Linked DNA regions of Homo sapiens. The protein of the gene in region 1 purifies or fractionates together with the protein of each later gene. This does not show direct contact. Each region holds a gene or a part of one and is shown on either strand. Other genes may lie near its edges.

Evidence for each region. Proteins that work in one complex are often made in the same cells at the same time.
Region 2: the proteins of USP42 (region 1) and YTHDC2 purify together in Homo sapiens (affinity purification with mass spectrometry; one large-scale study listed by BioGRID and IntAct). This does not show direct contact.

Annotation. Positions count from the first base shown.
Region 1 is NC_000007.14:6,153,304-6,157,163, reverse strand, and holds part of USP42 (ubiquitin carboxyl-terminal hydrolase 42), read right to left. Parts: exon of another isoform or gene 3,501-3,860; intron 3,409-3,500; coding exon 1,969-3,408; intron 411-1,968; coding exon 109-410; coding exon of another isoform or gene 77-108; exon of another isoform or gene 1-76. UniProt on the Homo sapiens protein: Deubiquitinating enzyme which may play an important role during spermatogenesis.
Region 2 is NC_000005.10:113,586,694-113,590,193, reverse strand, and holds part of YTHDC2 (3'-5' RNA helicase YTHDC2), read right to left. Parts: intron 1-3,500. UniProt on the Homo sapiens protein: 3'-5' RNA helicase that plays a key role in the male and female germline by promoting transition from mitotic to meiotic divisions in stem cells.

The DNA of each region.
Region 1 (3,860 bases):
GCCCTTTGATGCCACCTGAGGTTTTCTTTCTACATGTTAATCACCTTTGCAAAGAAAATGTATTAAGAAATAGTTTCTATCTTCCTAATTCCAAGTATCTCCTCTTACCCTGGCCATACTCAAAGAGACGACACCTGTCATCCCTGCTTTCCATCCGTAAGTGTTTCGTTTTCTCACGGAAAGGTCCGACGCCTTCCAGAGGCGGGCCACCAGAGAGAGGAAAGCCACCCTGGGCTCTCCGGAACTGGGCGACAGTCTCCAAGCTGGTGACCCTGGGTAAGTGCAGTTCTGAATCTTTAACAAAGTCCTCTGATTTTCTTGAATGTCTCTTCTTTTTCTTCTTCTTTTTTTTGTGTCTGTGGAGGTCAGCGTCAGAGCACGCTGCTGAGAGGTCTGAGTCCTGCTGATGCCTGCAGAAGGAAAAGCCAGAATTCAAAACCCTAAAACACAAAACCACCAGCAGCAGACCCTGGAGCTTGGCCTTTCCACCCATTCACCGAGAACATTCACTGTGCAGACACGCACAATTCTTATCTAATTAGCCACGTAGGCCAGGTATGGTGGCGCACACCTGTAGTCCCAGCTACTCGGGAGGCTGAAGCAGGAGGATCACTTGAGCCCAGGAGATTGAGGCTGCAGTGAGCTACGACTGCAACACCGCACTCCAGCCTGGGCAACAGAGCAAGACCCTGTCTCAAAAATTTAACAAGTTTGCCTTCACTGTAATGACTGTTTCAGTCCAGGGCCATAAATTCACCAACTTTAGCTCCATCCTGAACAGTCCCATCTCTGCTTCAGCTTTCTCAGGAACTAAGGCTGTTGGACAAACACTGCAGGGAGGATTCTGCTAACTTTTCCCGAAACCAGTAGTTACTTGAAGGGAAAGGAAATACTAAGCCTCCTTCCCTCCCATGTGCCTGAGACACCTGGCAGCAATATTATTTTTCCCTCCAATAACCACTGCCTATTTTCCATATGGCTTTTGGTAATCTTTCCCAGGGTTTCAGTTTCAAGAGATGTCAACTAAAATTACTAATTCTGCTCCTGCTCATCCATCTCATCATGGATACGTCATTTTCAAGACAATCACCAACCAATTTAGCTTTTTAAAAATACAAAAACAGGCCAGGTGAGGTGGCTCATGCCTGTGATCCCAGTGCTTTGGGATCGCTTGAGTCTAGGGGTTTGAGAACAGCGTGCGCGGCATAGTGAGATCCTGTCTTTACAAAAATAAAAAATTAGCTGAGGATGGTAGCACACGCCTGCAGTCCCGGCTACTCCAGAGGCTGAGGGCTGAAGCAGAAATATCATTTGAGCCCAGGAGGTCAAGGCTGCAGTGAGTTATGATGGCATCACTGCACTCCAGCCTGGGTGACAGAGCAACACCCTGTCTCTTAAAAAATACAGAAGCAAATTTCCCAATTGGATTTCAAGTTGAAAAATGGAGACAAAAACAAAGGCCGAGGAAACGAAGGTGTCTCCGATGCCTACGCTGGGCAGGCGGGCAGGCACAGGAAAAGTGTGCCTCCTGTTGTCTGCCTCCCTCACAGCCACTGAATTTCAGGAAAATATAACAGATATGAAAACATAACTACATCTGACAAGTAAGAATATTAACACCAATTCTAAGGTCAAAGACTCCCAATTGTTCATTGATGGAACACTGCATGCTTACTCCTGGAAGAGTTATAAAGCATTCACCAAAAATGGCACTATCATTTTGAAAAAGAAGGTTGTTAGGCATTTAACGACACCATGAAGAATAAAGATACAGCTTCAAAGCAGGGCAAATTTTTACAAATCTGTAAAAATAGTGAACTCTCAAAACCCACAGAAATGAAAGACACAAATCAGACGGATACAACTGTGGCCTGGCTGGTCACTTGTTCCTGAGTCGAGTGAGAAGGGACAGGCCCCACTGCTGACAGCAGCGCCAGCGCCTCGGGGAGCACAAGGCCCCAGGCTCACCTGGAGTCGCGGTCTCGGTGTTTGTCTTTGGATTTCTTTTTCTTCTTTGATTTTTTGTGCTTCTTTGCTTTAGGCTCTTCTAGAGGATCCTTCTGTTCGCTCCTCCGGGCTTTCTTTTCAACATGACTGTCACTGTTCTCCACACTGTCGTGTCTCCGTTTCCGGGACTTTCCATTTTCGTGTTCGTGAAACCGATCAGAGAGGTTACAGTTGTCTCCGGCTACAAGTGCAGTTCTGTCGTGGGAGAAGCGGTCGGGGTGCGGGGCGAGGGCGTGGGGCGCGCCTGCGCGGGGGCTGCTGGGGCGGTGCCGCTCCCTCTCCCGGGCCGGCTCGCAGCCCCTACGGCCCCGGTTGTGGTCCTTGTGCGGCCGCTCGTGCAGCCCGGCCCGCTCGTGCTCGCGGCCGCCGTGGAAGGGCTTCCAGTCCCGGGCAGCGTACAGGGCGTACCTGTCATGGTAGTACCGGCACCTGTCCCAGCGCGGCCTGTCGGGGTAGAACTTCTCCCGGCCCCAGCCACGCTCGCCCTCGGTGTAGTGGTGTCTGACCCAGTCCAGCTCCACCCCGCTCCGGTGTCGGGAGTGGTGGTGACTGCACCTGCCCAGAGAGCGGCGCTCGCCAGGGCTGAGCCTGTCGCCGTGGCCGGGGTGGTGCTCCGGGGCGTGGCGGTCCTGGCGGTCGCGCTCCCGGGGGCAGGTGCGGCGCCGCCGGTGACGGTGGCCCTCAGTCTTGCTCCTGCTCTCTCTGGCGGGCTCCCCGCTGGACGAGCGCTCTCTCCGGCTGCGGTAGTGGCCTCGGTCCACCTTTCTGAGGCTGCCGATTTTCTCCTTCGCTGGGGAAGGGCCTGGGGCTTTCGGCGCCGCGGCGTCCTCGACCCTCTCGCCGGGGCTAGGCTCAGCGTCCCCTTCCGGGTGACCGGCCGGGGCCATGTCCAGCACAGGAGCTGGCGGCCGCTCTGCGGCCTCGGGTGCGCCCAAGCTCTGGGATGGGTCCTGAGCGTCCCGGGCGTGGTCCCCGCTGGGGTGAACAAGGAGTGGCTGCTCGCAGGGCTCCTCCGACCGCGCAGGCGGAGCCGGACTCAACCCTTCCGGGGCTTCCGCCAACGCCGAGTCCCGCGGGCCCTCCGCGATCATCCCCTTTGCGTCCTGGGACAACGGGCTCGCATCGCCTGTTAAGCTCCCGGGATCACACAGGTCAGGGGGTGCTGTGTCCCCCACGATGTCCTCGCCGGCGCTGGGCGGAGGCTCCTCGGGGGCGACGGCCATGGCCTCCCAGGCGCCTTCTTTGGTAGCGGGGGTGCCGGGATCGCGGGGCGGCGGAGCCTTCTTGGTGCTGCTGAGGCCGGCGGCCGCATCTGGCTCCTCCAGGGATTCGGCGGCGGGGCTGCCAGGCTGAGGCTCGGCGTCGCGGTCCTCGGGAGGGCCCCTCTCTGCTCCAGGTGCACTGCAGCCCCCAAACAAACAAACACGCCCGTTAGCGTGGGCTTGACAGGCTCATGTCATTGCATTACAAGGACAAATACTTCAAAACGTTCATTTGCTATTTCGTCTCTTTATTTTATTATTATTATACTTTAAGTTTCAGGCTACATGTGCACAATGTGCAGGTTAGTTACATATGTATACGTGTGCCATGCTGGTGTGCTGCACCCATTAACTCGTCATTTAGCAGCTATTTCGTCTCTTTAAATACATCTCGCCGAAGCCCAATATTAGGCTAGTACTACTATCTCTGGAAACTCCCAATTTTCTCTTTCCCTTATTAAATAAAAATAAAATGTTATATCATCAAGCCCAGCTCCTAGCCTATTTTTCAAAACAATAATCCTAGAGTTCTAGGCTCTTCCTGTTTCTGGATATCCCTCTAGTTCTTCCAATTCCTCTATTTTTTTTTTT
Region 2 (3,500 bases), on another chromosome or scaffold:
GGAATATACAAAAACCTAGCTGCCCAACAAAATTATAAGAAACACAAAGAATATACAAAGGTTGTTATTTACATAATTAAGGCTGAAGAGAAGTTAAATACTGTTGTCATCTTGAGACTCTGATTGCAATGAGCAATCAGACACATTTACAAGTAGATTTTTACTAGCTCTTTACAAATCTGAACCCGTTTCTCATGTGCATATGGAATATAAAATTTGTACTTGCATTTTCTCCACAGACAAAGCACTGGATAACAAGAAGACAAAACAGAAAGAAAAGTAAAAGAAAAAAATGCCAAAAGTAATAAACAGAAACAGTCTCAGAGATGACAGAGTTGATGTAATTAGGAGACAAGAATGTTAAAGCATCTGTTATAAATACATTCATTATGTCCAAGAAGGTAGAGGAAAACTTGAACATAATGAGAGGAGAAATGGAAGATATTATTAACTTTTTTTAGGGGGACAGGGTCTCACTCTGTCATACAGGCTGGAATGCAGTGGCACAATCACAGCTCACTATAAAATCAAATTCCTGGGTTCATGTGATCCTCCTGCCTCAGCCTCCCCAGTAGCTAGGAATACAGGTGGCCCATCACCATGCCCAACTAATTTTTTTATTCTTTTGTAGAGATGATAGGGTCTTCCTATGTTGCCCAGGTTGTTCTCAAACTCCTAGCCTCAAGCTATCATCCCAACCTGGCCTCCTAAACCACTGGGATTACAGACATAAACCACGCCGGGCCAGAAGATATATATACATATATATATATATATATATATATTTTTTTTTTTTTTAATTTTTAAAAGACTTGAACTTCTAGAGATGAAAATACTGCCTTTAAAAACACATTAGAAGGAAAGAACAGCAGATTAGACACTAAATAAAAACATCAGTGAACGTACAGACAAAACAGTAGAACTATCTGAAATGAAGACAGAAAAATGACTGAAAAAAATGAAGAGAACATCGGTGACCTGTGGAACCATATGAGATGGTCTTACATCTGTGTATCCAGAGTCCCAGAAAGGAGGTTCTTCAGGCAGAAGTAAATAATACAAAATGGACATTCGTATTAACATAAAAGTATAATGAGCACAAGATTAGTAATAATAAATGTAAAAATATATTTTTCTGACTTTGAAATCTTCATAAAGGTAACTGACTATGTAAAGTAAAAACAATACATTATAGCATTTATATAAAAACAAAATGTATGAAAACAATATAACATAAAGGAGTAAAGTGTAAAATAAAAGAACACTGTTGGCCAGGCATGGTGGCTCACGCGTGCAATCCCAGCACTTTGGGAGGCAGAGGTGAGCAGATCACTTGAGATCAGGAGTTCGAGACCAGCCTGGCCAACATGGTGAAACCCTGTCTCTACTGAAAAATACAAAAACTTAGCCAGGCATGGTGGCACATGCCTGTAATCCCAGCTACTCAGGAGGCTGAGGAAGGAAAATGGCGTGAACCCAGGAGGCTGAGCTTGTAGTGAGCCGAGATCGCGCCACTGCACTCCAGCCTGGGTGGCAGAGTGAGACTCTGTCTCAAAAAAAAATAATATAAATAAATAAATAAATAAATAAATAAATGGCTTCATAAGTGAATTCTATCAAATATTCAAGGAAGAAATAATACCAATTCTACACATCTCTTCTAAAATACTGAAGTGGGACAAACACTTCCCAACTAATCTTATGAGGCCGGCATTACTCTGACATCAAAACCATACAAAGATACATAAGAAAAAAGAACTACAGAATAATACCCCTCATGAACAAAGATCCCTCATTTAACAAAATTATATCCAGCAATATATAAAAATAACACCATGACCAAGTGGGGTATAAACATAAGAAAATCAAGCAATGAAATTCACCATACTAACAGACAAAAAATGCTTTCCCCCTAAGATCAAGGGAAAGATATGTGGCTCTCAACACTGAACAATATTTTGCTGGAGGCTCTGGCCAGAGAGATAAGGTAAAAAAGAAATAAACAGCAATCAGATTGAAAAGGAAAAGAGTAAAATTATCTTTATTATCAGAAGGCATAAAAAGCTAATAGAATTAATAAATGAAATAAGGTCATAGGATTCAGGGCAGATATACAAATATCAAATGTATTTGTATATACTAACAATGAATACCTGCAATTAAAATTCTAAAGAACAGTATCAAAAACATTAAATACTTAGGGAGAAATTTAACAAAAAATTGTAATACTTGTACTCTGAAATTTATAAAACATTGTTGAGAGAAATTAAAGACTATCCAAATAATGAACAGATATACTATGCTTATGGATTAGAAGACTAAGAAGTGTTAATTGTTGATTTTCTTTAAATTGATCTATAGATTCAATGCAATTCCACTCAAAATACCAAAAAATTTTTCTGCAGAAACTGATAAGCTGACTTTAAAGTTTATATGAAAGTACAAAGGACCTGGAACAGCCAAAATAATATTGAAGAAGATAAACAAAGTTGAAGGACAATTGATTGAAGGATTAACTGATTTCAAGACTTACTATAAAGCTACTAAAATAATGTCAGTGTACCACTGGCAAATATATATATAATAATATGTCATAAATATTAATTATATTAATATATAAATATACTATATATTATGTATGTACAATATATTAATATATAAATACATAATATATATTACATATAAATACATTATATATATTATATGAATACATAATATATATTTATATATTATATATGAATACATAATATATATTTATATATTATATATGAATACATAATATATATTTATATATTATATATGAATACATAATATATATTTATATATTATATATGAATACATAATATATATTTATATATTATATATGAATACATAATATATATTTATATATTATATATGAATACATAATATATATTTATATATTATATATGAATACATAATATATATTTATATATTATATATGAATACATAATATATATTTATATATTATATATGAATACATAATATATATTTATATATTATATATGAATACATAATATATATTTATATATTATATATGAATACATAATATATATTTATATATTATATATGAATACATAATATATATTTATATATTATATATGAATACATAATATATATTTATATATTATATATGAATACATAATATATATTTATATATTATATATGAATACATAATATATATTTATATATTATATATGAATACATAATATATATTTATATATTATATATGAATACATAATATATATTTATATATTATATATGAATACATAATATATATTTATATATTATATATATATATAGAGAGAGAGAGAGAGAGAGATATTAATGAAACTGAAGAGTCCAATAAGTAGACCACATATTTATGGCCAGTTGATTTTTGACAAAGGTGTCAGTGTAACTCAATGGAAAAAAACAAATGGTTTTAACAAACGGTACTGGAACAATTGTATAAGCAAAAGCCAACGAGTAATTCTTGACTC